Linked DNA regions of Homo sapiens: region 2 is linked to region 1. The links come from fine-mapping of genetic effects on gene expression. Tissue or cell type: visceral fat. Region 1 holds a variant in brackets; the other region holds the start of a gene. All regions are shown on one strand. Distances are from middle to middle.

Evidence for each region. PIP is the estimated chance that this variant, and not a neighbour inherited with it, causes the effect.
Region 2: SLC13A5 starts here. The variant in region 1 is the best candidate, but not a certain one, in a credible set for the expression of SLC13A5 in visceral fat (GTEx, PIP 0.85).

The regions. Positions count from the first base shown.
Region 1 is chr17:6,748,691-6,753,079 of GRCh38, forward strand. It overlaps the pseudogene RPL23AP73. Among named protein-coding and RNA genes, the nearest start is that of XAF1, 5.2 kb to the right of the region's middle. RefSeq lists enhancers at 3,420-3,714, 3,740-4,034. The variant G/GA (reference allele first, on the strand shown) is at 2,068.
Region 2 is chr17:6,710,921-6,715,309 of GRCh38, forward strand. SLC13A5 (solute carrier family 13 member 5) reads right to left here and starts at 2,449. Exons shown (of 12, transcript NM_177550.5): 1 at 2,312-2,449. The coding sequence starts at 2,413.

The DNA.
Region 1 (4,389 bases):
TTCAGCAAACCCCAGTCAGGATAAAGATGAAGAAATCTATGTGTAGACAAATCATTATGAAACTGCTGAAAACCAAAGATAAAAAGAAAACCTGATGCCTGTCAGAGAAAAATGACAGATTACATACAGGGGAATGACAACTCAAATGACCATGTACTTCTCACCAGATACTATGGAGGCCAAATAACATTTGTAATGTACTGAAAGAAAAAATAAACTGTCAACCCAGAATTCTACTTCCAATGAAAATAGCCTTCAAGAATTGGGGCAAAATAAAGGAATTTTCAGATAAAAGAAATCTAAAAGAATTCATTGCCAGCTGGGTGCAGTGGCTCACTCCTGTAATCCCAGCACTTTGGGAGGCTGAGATGGGCAGATCACCTGAGATCAGGAGTTTGAGACCAGCCTGGTCAACCTGGTGAAACCCTGTCTCTACTAAAAATACAAATATTAGCCAGGCCCGGTGGTGGATGCCTGTAATCTCAGCTACTCAGGAGGCGAGGCAGGAGAATCACTTGAACCCAGGAGGTGCCGGTTGTAGTGATCCAAGATCATGCCATTGTACTCCAGCCTCTGTGGCAGAGTAAGACTCCATCTCAAAAACAAACAAACAAATAAACAAAACAAAACAAAAAACACCACCACCAACAAAAAGAATTCATTGCCAAAAGACCTACACTACAAAATAAAAAGTGCTTTAGGCTGAAGGGAAATTAAAATGTATGGAAAGACCTTCAGTAAAAACTCTGGACACTAAAGCTCAGGTGAGCTACCTGGCAGGTGATCATACATCAATGTGCTAGGAAGGTGATGCATCCCCAAGCATAAATTAAAATGGAATTCAAAAAAATATTCAAAGAATCCAAAAGAAGGCAAGAAAAGAGGAACACGGGAACAAAACACAAGAGGCATACAGGAAAAATGACAATAATGTTGCAGACCTAAATTCAACCATATCGACAATTATATTAAATGTTAATATACTAAGCACTCCAATTAAAATACAGAATTGGACCCTGTTCACAAGATGGCGCCAAAAGCGAAGAAGGAAGCTCCTGCCCCTCCTAAAGCAGAAGCCAAAGCAAAGGCTTTAAAGGCAGTGTTGAAAGGTGTCCACAGCCACATAAAAAAGAAGATCCACAAGAAAAGAAGATCCACCCACCTTCTGGCCGCCCAAGACACTGTGACTCCTGAGGCAGCCCAGATATCTTCAGAAGAGCGCCCCTGGGAGAAACAAGCTTGATCACTATGCTATCATCAAGTTTCTGCTGACCCCTGAGTCTGCCATGAAGAAGACAGAAGGCAGCAACACACTCATGTTCATTGTGGATGTTAAAGCCAAAAAGCACCAGATCAAATAGGCCGTGAAGAAGCTCTGTGACATTGATGTGGCCGCAGTCAACACCCTGATCAGCCTGATGGAGAGAAGAAGGCATATGTTCAACTGGCTCCTGATTACGATGCTTTGGACGTTACCAACGAAATTGGGATCATCTAAACTGAGTCCAGCTGGCTAATTCTAAATATATGTATATCTTTTCACCATAAAAAAAATATGGAATTGGAAGTAGCTCCCCAACTTACTGCTTGCTGAAGAAAAGGCATAGATCATCCATTCCCATTGCTTCCATACTCATATGAAATATTTGGTATATATCTACCCAAAAGTAATATGCTGTTCCACTCCCCTGTACTCTGCCTTCTGCCTCAAATGTCCTTCCTATCTCATACCACCCTCACCTCCAGCATTCAACACACACACACACACACACACACACACACACATTTAGACTCCCTCATGTCTTACCTTTCCATGAAGGTGATATGATCTGACCACTCCACTTACTCCAATTAAAATAGATCATATCTATGCATGGGTGAGATTATATCTTGCTATTCAAGCTCACTAGGAGCTGAGACTTCATTTTGTTTGTTATTGTAGCCCCTGGGCCAGGTGTATATAGGCTATTTAGCTATCAAAAACATTAATCAGCAATCAAAATTAAGTAGTGAATATAGTAGGCTGTTCTCCACGAATACAATTTGTAATAACAAACTTGAATAGGG[G/GA]AGTAATTCAACCCAGACTATGCCCTCTGCTTTATAAAATAATATCCTGCCAACTTGGCGTGACATTGAATTTTTTTTTCCTGACAAATACTGACATATTTGCTCAAACAAATTAATATCCTTCCTTTGATTCGTTTTGTTTTGGAGGAAATAAGTTCACATGTCAATGTAAAAGCTGATCCTTACAACCTCTCTTCCAAATGAATTTTTGTATCTTCATGATAACAAGATAATTAAGGAACAGTAAACTTTTCTTTAACTTTGTCTTTTTCTTTTTAGACATAACCCTGGCCTTCTGCATGGAGCCGTCGCTACTGAGATAGAAAAACAATGATGAGCTGCTAAGTATTTAACAGCCAGATCTTGGGGATGGGGAGATACTCGATTTGTAGCATTTGCCCATTTCCACGGTTTAAATACTCTCACTATGGCCAATTTTAAGGTATCAGCATGACCTTATAAATGGAACATTAAGAAGAGATGGACAGGTCGGGCCCAGTGGCTCATGCCTGTAATCCTAGCACTTTGGGGGGCTGAGGCAGAAGGATCACGAGGTCAGGAGTTCAAGACCAGCCTGGCCAAGATGGTGAAACCCCATTTCTACTAAAAATACAAAAATTAGCCTGATGTGGTGGTGGACGCCTGTAATCCTAGCTACTCAAGAGGCTGAGGCAGAGAATTGCTTGAACCCGGGAGGTGGAGGTTGCAGTGAGCCGAAATGGCACCATTGCACTCCAGCCCGGGCGACAGAGCGAGACTCCTTCTCAAAAAAAAAAAAAAAAAAAAAAAAAAAAAAAGAAGAAGAAGAAGAAGAAGAAGAAGAAGAGATGGACACAATATCTTGGAGCCAGTGTGAATCATTGTAAGAAAGACCACGTGATGTCAAGGACAGGGTAGGAAGAAACATAAGTTTCCATTTTTAAAAATTAAAACACTAGTTATTCCCTAAAATGAGAGTCTGAGTGGCTGTTCATTACCACAACTTAACCATATGAGTATGTTCACCCCAAATTCTGAGTGAAAAGACCCTGAAGCTCTAAACTTTTTCTCTTTCACCTCCCCCGCTCCACCATAAAAAGAAACAACAAAAAAATTGACATATATGGTCATTTGTCCTGAGTTCCATGAGATTTGCAGCAACCAAGGGGACCATACCATGATCAAGCTATTAAAAAATTGGTTGGATGCAGCGGCACATTTCTGTAATCTCAGCACCTTGGAAGACCGAGGTTGGAGGACCACTTGAGGCCAGTTCAAGACCAGCCTGGGTAACATAGTGGGACCCCATTTCTACAATTTTTTTTAAAGTTAGCTAGGTATGGTAGTGTGTGCCTGTAGTCTGTGTGAAGGCAGGAGGATTGCTTGAACCTGGGAGTTCGAGGCTGCAGTGAGCTATGATCACCACTGCACTCCAGCCTGAGTGACAGAGACAGACTTCATCTCTTTACCCAATATGTGTAATCTGGGAAGAGGAGAAGGCTCATAACACTCACCCTTGTAAACATCAGGGAAGAGACCTTGACATTTGGACTGTGATTGCTGATTGGACGGGAATGGGTTGGCAGGGGAAGTGGGTGAGATGTTTTAACCAGGAAAAAGAAAAAAACAAAAACAAAACTATGAATGTGTGAAAAGAGACTTCTCAAAGAAAGAAAGGAAGAGAAAAGTACTGGTCACTCCCCACACAGACAGAATGCCATGGAGTTGCTCTTTCTTGCCATGAGTTTAATGACAAGCTTCCTTCCCCTTCATATGCCAACTAAGCAGCAGCCAGCAGGTCATTCCCCGTCTTTGCTGCCCAGCCAGGCCTAGAGTCTTCCCCAAACACAGTCACAGATATTCCCAGGCTTGAATGCCATCCAGAGACTAGTCATCTGATGCAATTTCCTGTGGTCTGACAAACGAACTCCCATCCAAACACGTTGTGCTTGGGGAGTCTGACTATATGATCACATCTCCCAGGACTCAGGCCCACTCTGACCACAGGATTCTTCTAAAGACACCACCGACAGAAGTGTGTGCAATTGCACCATATAATTTTTGTCTGGGAAGTGAAATATCTCTGTCGTTACATCATCTTCCTTAGCATAGTGATCCCTTAAAAGAAGAAAGCCTAAATAAGATCCCTTCTCAAAGCCAAACTATTAAAACAATCCTTTTTAAATATTCTTTCCTGTCTTCCATGCTGTACAAGTACAGCTTTCACACAATTTCTCTTCTGATCTTCAAAACAATGCACGGAGGGGTGTATTATTCCTGTGTCCTAGTCCAGCCAGGACTTCCTGCTCCCCTTTCCCCCCGATTCCTGCAAAGGTGACATGG
Region 2 (4,389 bases), 38 kb before region 1:
AAATAAGTGATACAAGAAATCTATCATTTATTTCATTAAATTTTTTTTCAATTAAAAAAAGACCCAGAGGAAGGATAGAGAGAGTGGAGCAGAGATGAGGCCAGGAGGGAATCCAGGTGGAGACAGGAAAACTGGAGACAGTCGGTGAGGAGAGAGGCCTGGGTGTTGGCAGAGGGTGGCGTGCCCTGGGAGTCACCTCCTGGCAAGGACTGTGTTGCTCAGGCTGCCAAGGTCCTCCCAGCTTCTCACCAGCTTCCCAGCTGCCCTGCCCGTGCTGTGTACCCTCTGGGTTTCCTTGCACAATGGGGCGGCCATGGAGGGTGGGGGCAGGGTGACCAAAACAGGCAGAAAGGGAAAAAACAAGAAGACAAGGTCCAGGGTCCTCACCCAACCCCGCCAGAAGGAAAGCTCGTGAAGGCAGCCTTTGGAAGGACTCTCCCTGGGTTCTCTTCTTCCCCTCCCTGGTCCTCACTCAAAGGACAGCTTAATCTCTCTCTCTCTCTCTCTTACACACACACACATACACACACATACACACACACTGAGTTAGGGTTTCCAGTTCAGGGTGTGTGTGTGTGTGTGTGTGTATGTGTATGTGTGTGTTTGTGTTTTTTGTGTGTTTTGTGTGTGTGTTTGTGTGTGTGTTTGTGTGTCTGTGTTTGTGTGTTTGGGTGTGTGTTTGTGCGTGTGTTTTTGTGTGTGTTTGTGTTTGTGCGTGTGTTTTGTGTGTGTCTGTGTGTTTGTGTGTGTGTCTGTGTGTGTTTGTGAGTGTGTGTGTGTGAGAGAGAGAGTGTGTATGTGTGTGTGTGTGAGTGGGGTCTCCTGTGGCAGGAAGGTCAGCCAAGCTACTATAATCATTCCAGGGAACATCACTCCCTACCAGCAGAGCTGAAATCGCAGCTCTCCTGCCTGGCTACTTCCCCTGGACAATAACAACCCCAGACTTCTTGCTACAGAGGAAGTGTGGCTGCCCACAGTTGGTGTGGCAACTGCACAGCCTCCACAGTTGGATCTGCTGTCCTTGACCCATCCAGGGCCTGTGCTAGGCCCACCCAAGGGCTCCTCCCAGTCTCCCCCTCCCCCATCCTAGGAACTAACGTTAATCCCTTTTGATTCCCAAAGCCTTAAAGTGTCAGAACCAAACCACCTAGCCCCATTGTACAGATGAGAACACCAAGGCCCAGAGAGCACAGGCACTTGGCTAAAGTCACACAGATGACAGAATGGTGGAAGTCCAGTTCTCTTGCAGGTTGGCTTCCTGACACCCCAGTGCACTCCCTTCCTCTAGAGCTCCCCCCCAGAGCATCCCCTGAAGAGCTCCTCTGTTTCCCAAACCTGCCTGGGGAGGGGAGGTGGGGAGCTGGAGGTTTCCTGTCTGGGCTGAGAGTGAAAGGGCTGAAAGAAGGAACGAGGAAGGAGCAGCCAGCAGCCACAAAAGGCTTCAAAGGGCTTGGGCCTCCGCCAAACTGGCTGTGCACAGCCCAGTGGAGCCTGCGCCCACCCTGCGGCCAAGGCCATTCATTCTCTCTCTCCCTCACAGAAGCATTAGGAGACTAGGGCCTGGGAGGAAGCTTCCCTGCAACTCCAGGTCCTGCCACCCAAGGCGCGAGCTCTGGGAATGTGTCCCGCCTCCTGCTACAGCCCCAGCAGGCAGGAGGCAAAGCAGGCCAACCCCAACCTGCCTGCAGCCTGGAGCAGGATTATGAATCAGATGTGGCTCTCCAGGTTGGAAGGAATGTGGATCATAGATAGAGACACTAAGGCCCAAGGAAGGGCCAGAGAGTGGCAAAGACAGCGCAGGATCCACGTGGGTGATGATTTTTTTCCTGTAGGTCCCTCCTGACGGCAGAAGCCACCTACAGCTTGAAGTCTTCTTTGGCGAAGGGAAAAGACAGGAGAGAGAGAGGGAAAGGCAAGCTCCCAGGTTCCCTGTTGGCGCAGGTGGCATTTTGGGGGGAAACAGGGTTATGCACTGTGGGAGATTCGATTCGGAGCCAGGGGCTGAGCCTAAGGCTGGGATCTGTGTGGCTGAGATCTGTGCTCACTTCGAGGTTTCCGTGCTTGCCTGGACGGCTCTTGCGCCCTGGGATCTGTAAACCCCAAGGGTGGTGCGCCCTGGGGTCGCCATGCCCCTCAGATTCTTTACAGGGCACCTCCCATCCGGCACCTGGAGCTCCTGAGTGCGCGCGCCCCGGGAGAGCTGTGCTCCCCGCGAAATCCGTGCGCTCCAGCTCAGGGCTCCCGGGATCGGTGCCCGTTAGTGGGCACAGGACGCCGGGTGTCCGAAGGGCTGCCTGGAGATGCAACTGACCTTGGCGGGCATCAGAATGACGAGTGGCAGCAGCAGGAGCGGGGTGACGAACAAGATCACGAAGGACTTGAACTTGGAGACATAGCTCAGCGCCGAGGCCATCGCGCGGGAGGGAGACTGGCGGGCGAGACGAGTGAGGGGCAGCTAGAGGCGCCGCGGGCTTAAGAAGGGGCCACAGTCCCCGGGGATTGGGGAGGGGGCGGTGACAACTCCGCCCCGCACGGGGGCGCCTCCCCGCGGCCCTGGGGCGGGGCCACCCCTCGGGGTCTGTGGGACGCGCCTGCCCCCAATTCTGCCACCCGGCGGCGGTGGGAGGCGTCTTTGGACTCCAACGCTTCGGGCCAGCCCTCTAGGGGCAGCCTGGGCCCTAGCATCTCGCGCTGTCCAAGCCTCTCCTGCGCTGCCGAGGCAGAGGTGCGTCCCGGGGCTGCCAAGCGGGGCGTGTTTTGGTCACTGGTGCTGCCCGCTTTGGCGTAAGGCGCCCTCCCGCGTCCGCATCTGCTCTTTCCTGGGCTCTGAAGGGTCCCGGATGAAACTCTCTGCAGGCCTCTGGGTCTCTCAGGTCTATCTCCCCGATCTCCCTCTCCTTTCCATCTCCTTACTTCCGCCCCTCCGGTGTCTCTCCGAGAGGTGTCCCCCCACGCCCCGCGCCCTCCGCACCGCGGGCCTCGCTTCCCGGTCCCCCCTGGCTTCCTCGCCACGTCCGCCCCACTCTAGGTGCAGGACCCCTTTTCCCCGCTCGCACTCTCCGGCCCGGAGCTCCTGGGCGATCGCACAGGGAAGCGAGGCCACTGTCCTCCTCTGTCCCAGGGGCTGTCGCGCTCCAGTGGACGCTGCACCCCGCAGACGCCCGGCGGGCAGATGCGGACACGCGTCTTGGAGGGGCCCCACCGAGCCTCAGCAGCCGCAGCTGCCCGCCCGACCCAGGTCAGAGGGAAACGGAGCTCTAGAGAGGAAGGGACACAACTAAGGCGACACTGAGACAGTCGCCCATGTATTCATTCAGCCCGCCAGGCAACAGACAGGTGCCGAGCACCTCTTCTCCGCGAGGCCCTGTTTTGGGCACTGGAGACACACGGATGCAAAGACATCCCCACCTCTGTGATTTTCTTCTTTCCTCTCCTCTGCCTGCCTCTCATTCTGCAGCTTCCTTTTGGGGAGTCTCATCCATGCTGGTGGCCTAACCACAGCCGGCTCCTTAGTGATTACCATCCTCTGCCTTCAACCCAGCCATGATGCCAGAGTCCCAGATGTCCAGCCTTCCGCAGACTGGACGTGTCTCGGCCCGAAAATTCAACACATCCTGAATCAAGCTCATGAGTTCCTTCCTGTGACCTGCACCCAAGGACATGCATTCTCCCAAGCCCCTCCTGCAATTGCCTCCCTCCTGTCCTTTTCCCTTTGTAACTCTCATGCATATAGCCCTGGGTTTTCCCGCCTTTCCTGTGTCCCCAGGGCACTTAGCACAATTTGTACCTCTTATATTTATTGGTGTAATTTTTACTTTTTACTTTTTTATTTTTTAAGTGTTATTTCATTTTTAATTGACAAATCATTGTCTATATTTACGGGGTACCATGTGATTTTTCAATGTGTGTATAATTGTGGTGTGTTCAAATCAGGCTAATGAGCATATTTATCACTCGAATATTTATCATTTCTCTTGTTTTTGTTTTTTGTTTGTTTGTTTGAGACAGAGTTGTGCTCCTGTCACCCAGGCTGGAGTGCAGTGGCACGATCTCGGCTCACTGCAACCTCTGCCACCTAGGTTCAAGCAAATCTCCTGCTTCAGCCTCCCAAGTAGCTGGGATTACAGGTGTGCACCACCACGCCCGGCTAATTTTTTGCATTTTTAGTAGAAATGGGGTTTCACCATGTTAGCCAGGCTGGTCTCGAACTCCTGACCTCAGGTGATCCGCCCACCTCGGTCTCCCAAAGTGCTGGGATTACAGGCGTGAGCCACCGCGTCTGGCCCAAATATTTGTCATTTCTTTGTGGTGAGAACATTTAAAATATCTTGTAGCTATTTTAAAATATATGACACATTATTATGATGTAATTTCTATTTACTGTCTGTT